Linked DNA regions of Homo sapiens: region 2 is linked to region 1. The links come from fine-mapping of genetic effects on gene expression. Tissue or cell type: lung. Region 1 holds a variant in brackets; the other region holds the start of a gene. All regions are shown on one strand. Distances are from middle to middle.

Evidence for each region. PIP is the estimated chance that this variant, and not a neighbour inherited with it, causes the effect.
Region 2: it holds the start of FAM117B, and the variant in region 1 is fine-mapped to the expression of FAM117B in lung (TOPMed, PIP above 0.99).

Annotation. Positions count from the first base shown.
Region 1 is chr2:203,579,916-203,582,674 of GRCh38, forward strand. No RefSeq gene overlaps it. Among named protein-coding and RNA genes, the nearest start is that of RAPH1, 46 kb to the left of the region's middle. The variant A/G (reference allele first, on the strand shown) is at 1,660.
Region 2 is chr2:202,633,785-202,636,284 of GRCh38, forward strand. It overlaps FAM117B (family with sequence similarity 117 member B), which reads left to right and starts at 1,185. Exons shown (of 8, transcript NM_173511.4): 1 at 1,185-2,004. The coding sequence starts at 1,404. RefSeq lists silencers at 1,223-1,452, 1,643-1,692, 1,793-2,232.

The DNA.
Region 1 (2,759 bases):
TAGTCTTGCCTGCCGGGTAGCAGCCCTCAGAGAGAATAGAAGGTAAATGATTCCTTCAGACCTTTGAAGGTGTCAGACTTCCAGTTAATCTTTCCTAGATCCAGCCAAGGGAAAGTCTCAGAGAAAGCCTGGCTGCAGCAATGTATAGCTTCCAGATGCATATTTTCCTGACAATAGACAGCTTTCCAGGGCTACTTCTCTTTGCAGGCCCTCTGAAGAGCCATCACAAAGTATGTCAAATAAATATATTCTGGGGTGAAATATTTTTATTTCCTTCAATAGTGAATAGAGACAAGTATGGACTGTTTTAACAAAACAAAATAAAAGCATGCCAATAATAGACATTAGAGTATTAACTACTCATTGCATATGCCTGCAATTCTGTTTGTAATGGTAAATAATCTAGCATTTATGTAAACTTTTTTTTTTAATGCTTCCCCTCTGTTTGAAACTAAAAATTCCCAGGCTGGGTGTGGTGGCTCATGCCTGTGATCCCAGCATTTTGGGAGGCTGAGGCAGGTGGATCACCTGAGGTCAGGAGTTTGAGACCATCCTGGCCAACATGGCGAAATCCTGTCTCTACTGAAAATACAAAAATTAGCCAGGCATGGTGGTGGATGCCTATAATCTCGGCTACTCGGGAGGCTCAGGCAGGAGAATCACTTGAACCCCTGGGGCGGAGGTTGCAGTGAGCCAAGATCGTGCCAGTTCACTCCAGCCTGGGCAAAAGAGTGAGACTCTGTCTCAAACAAACAAACAAATAAAAACACAACAACAAAAAGAAACTAAAAATTCTATTTAAAAAAAATAGCCAAGGCTCTTTACAATTTATCTTCTTTACTTTAAAAAGAATAGAGCAGCAACATCTGAGTAAAGTACATTTTTTACATTTCAACCAATCCTTATGTAAAAGACATCTAAAAAGGTATATATTAGCATTTTTAGGGCTTTTTGGAATTATAAACAGATTGACAGCTCTGTGGCCTGGAGTTAGTGCTGTTTATTTCCTAGACTGATATAGCAGCGGCTGTAGTTCCATGCATGGCACCCTGATTCCCAGGATTAGGAATACAAAGGCTGATTTGTGGGGAGGAGAGTTTTCTGGAAGCACGTGCAGCTGCCACTGGCGCATGCCAGCACATTCATTAGCCAATCTGACAGCAGAGCTGATGTCTACTCTCAGCTTTTCGGGGCAAAGAAAGGCACATGATGCCAAAGGGCCTTCTCATTCTTAGCTGAACACACAGAAGGGTAAAGCCAGGGGTTCCCATGATCCTTCCTTTTTCCTGGATCGTTAGCTGTCAGGATCTCAAGTAATCATGAATTAACCCCTGTAAGGCATCTGAATGAATGCCTACCTTATTTTAAACCTGAATAAGTAAAACCCTCTTAAAGATTGCTGTTTCATGCTGCCCGCCCCATCCCCCCAACCCACTCCCTTTTAATAATGTAGCAACATGGAGATTGAAGTGGGTAATTTTTCTCTTTGTATACTGTCTTTTTCAATTCTGGAACAGGTCCAGAAATTATAAATTGAATTGAATTATAAATAAGTATTGAATATTGTTTTGCTATTCCCAATACATTTAATACTGTCAATTATTTTAATTGGGCTAGTCATTTCAGAATTTAAAATAGTAAAGGCTCAGTCAAGGTTGC[A/G]TCAGGGATTCCTGATACTTGGGAAACTAGAAAACAACAACAACAGTTCAAATCCATGTAGCTTCATTCAAATCATTCATGTACTGGCGTATGCCATAGTCCTTAACCTGACCCTACCCTGTGGTTCATAAAACTGTCAACTAACTTGCATATCATCCAGATGTCTTGTTTTGGCTCACCACATTTCAGACTTCGGTCTGTGAATACTTGCAAATATTTTCTTTTTTCTTTTTCTTTTCTTTCGCTTTTTTTTGAGACGGAGTCTCGCTCTGTCACCAGGCTGGAGTGCAGTGGCGCGATCTGGGCTTACTGCAACCTCCGACTCCCTGGTTCAAGCAATTCTCCTGCCTCAGCCTCCTGACTAGCTGAGATTACAGGCACGTGCCACCACACCCAGCTAATTTTTGTATTTTTAGTAGAGACGGGGAGTCACCATCTTGGCCAGGATGGTCTCAATCTCCTGACCTCGTGATCTGCCCGCTTCAGCCTCCCAAAGTGTTGGGATTACAGGCGTGAGCCACCGTGCCCAGCCACAAATGTTTTCTTAAATAATTTAGCATACATTACTGGTTGTCTCAGAATATTTCAGCAATAACGTAATAGTCTTTATTTATAACTAATAAAACTAGGATAATCCAGCAGTGGAAACCAATGAATAGGAGGCAACTCACCATGGTCTTGCTGGTTTTGCCAATGCCAAGCCAGAGGAACACAGGCAAATTATGAAATTCCTCTGGGTAGTATCACAGAAAAGCAAGGAGAATTTCAAAGCCGGGCCAGGAGGTGCTATTTAGGTAGAGATATTAAACATAATCACAGTTTAAGTGATTATATAAAAAGGGGCTGTTACAGAAACAGTGAAATCTTTATAGCCTCTGATAGGATACTTGATGGGCTTCCAAATTTGCGCACTTCCCTCTTGAAGAGAGTTAGATCTTTTGACTAGAGGGCTAGATCTCTCTCCTCTCTGAATTTCAAAAGTGTTAAAATAACAAGCAATGTCTAGCTGGGTGATTTTCCACATTCGTCCTGTCTAAAGGAAGAAGTTTGTTCTACTGTAAACAGTTATGGGAACTGTTTGCTTTGGATGGGCTTGGTCC
Region 2 (2,500 bases), 950 kb before region 1:
TAGGTGACAGAGAGAGACTTCTTCTCAAAAAAAAAAAAAAAAGGCCTTCCACCACCGCGCAAAGGGACCCAGTAGGATTTCAGGTCCAGAGTGAATCATACTATGCCCTCCACTCCCACATTTTTACACGACGAAATCTGTCTAGCATGTACAACTAATAAAAATAGTAGAGGGAAAAGAGGTCATGGATAGGCAATTTATAGCCAGACAGGTGGGAGTGTAGGTTTTGGCTCCACCATTTTTTATTTTCTTGATGAGGAGCCCTTTAGGTCATTTTAGAAATAGTGTCACTGCCTGCCTTCCCGAGTCTTTGCCACACCAAAGACTTGTTTCCTCCGCTAGACAAAAATATGGATGGCTGTCCCAGTTCTGTCTCAAACAATGATCGTGTAGAATCAAATAAGGCCCTCTGTAAACTATAGCACTTTACAAACTGGTAAGGTAGCAGCCATCCTTCCAAGGTATCAGGGAACAGCGAAGCAGCTGATTAAAATAGTCTTGATTACTTGAGATACAGGAGGGTAGGAATAACATGTGGTAACTGAACTCTATAGATACTATCTAAAATCGCATTCTAACAGGCAAGTTTAATCTTTCTGAGATTTGCCTCTTTGTAGAGCTCTAAAAAATAAAAGGAGAGGGGCGTAAAATGCCAGTAAGATTAGTTAAATTTCTTCTCCTTTTGAGCCCTGCCCATAGGTAGATGGAATTAGGGCAGAACAAAAACATTAAGAATAAAAGCCCGAACGAGATGCGCGTACAGGTGAACACAAGTGAACACTGGGGTAAGGAAATGAGTTATGCGGAAAAGGCTTCAGACCATCCCTGGGAACTGCTCCGGGTCTGGACATTTCCTTTGGCAACCTTCCAGAGTCTGAGTCCCCAGGGCTCCCCCCGGCGGGAAAGGAAAGGCGCGCGTGGCTAGGCGCGCGCGTACACGGGCACTCACGTGTACACACACACGCGCGCACACTACACATACACACAGGGCCCATTTCCTCCGCTCCCTCCCCGCGGGGGGCGGGTCTCTTTCTCTTTAAAGAGCAGACGGTCTCCGCGCACACCCAGGCTCTCAAGGCCTCGGGGGCCCGGGACCCGAGCTGCTCGTAGCCAATGGGAGCAGTGGAGCGGCTCGAGCGCGGCTGACGCTGCACCAATGGGCGATCGTGGGGGGCGGGGGCAGCAGAGGAGACACTATTGTTGATGAGGAGCGGCGGCGGCGGCGGCGGCGGCTGCACCACCTCGTTGCTGCCTGCCCCGGCCCGGTCTCCCCCTGCACCCCGGAGTCCGGCTTCGTCACCCCGTCTTGGGGGGCCTGCCCTCCGGCCTCGAGAATCCTCCCCCTGCAGCCCAACAACAACAAAACCCCCCGTCTCGCCCAGTCACCGGGGAGGGGGGGGACCATGTCCCAGCGGGTGAGGCGCAATGGGTCCCCCACGCCGGCCGGCTCCCTTGGGGGTGGTGCGGTGGCCACGGCCGGGGGACCCGGGAGCCGCTTGCAGCCCATGAGGGCGACGGTTCCGTTCCAGCTGAAGCAGCAGCAGCAGCAGCAACATGGCAGCCCCACGCGGAGCGGCGGCGGCGGCGGCGGCAACAACAACGGTGGCTGCTGTGGTGGCGCCTCAGGCCCCGCAGGCGGCGGCGGCGGCGGTGGCCCGCGCACCGCCTCGCGCAGCACCAGCCCCACGCGCGGCGGCGGGAACGCGGCCGCGCGCACCAGCCCCACGGTGGCCACGCAGACGGGCGCGTCCGCGACGTCCACGCGAGGCACCAGCCCCACGCGCAGCGCCGCGCCTGGAGCTCGCGGGAGCCCCCCACGGCCGCCGCCGCCGCCGCCGCTGCTGGGCACCGTGTCGTCGCCCAGCTCGTCGCCCACCCACCTGTGGACCGGCGAGGTGAGCGCGGCCCCACCCCCAGCCCGCGTCCGGCATCGGAGGAGGTCTCCGGAGCAGAGCCGAAGCTCGCCGGAGAAGAGGAGCCCCAGCGCCCCGGTTTGCAAAGCAGGTAAGTGCTGGGGGTCGCGCAGCAAGGGGGAGGCGGCTGCGGGAAGGGGTCCCGGGCGCGCGCTGCAATCGCGCGGGGACTGCAGAGCTGCCGCGGAGCCCGGGTGGCTGGGGGCGGGGCTGGGGGCGGTGCCGGGCGGTGGGGGACCCGGCAGTGCGGCCCCGCCTTTCCCGGGCCTACCCTACGCCCCGCCCGCCCGCCCGCCTCATTCACCCCTCTGCCCGCCCCGCACGGCTCCCTGGTGGTGGAGGTGCAGCGGCTAAACCTTGGGCTTGAGCTGATGAGTGTTAATGATAAACCTGGCTTCCTGGCCTTACTCCTGGAGGAGTCGTTACTGCTTACCCTCCCTTGAGGGTGAGGCTAGGAGTGGTTTGTCACTTTGTTTTAGGGACAAGGTTAATGTTGGCATAGCCCATATCTGCTGCTGCTAAGTATTTCTGTTCACAAAACAGTTTCAGATCTGGGGTACTGAATGCATTAGCAGTGGCAGATTTGG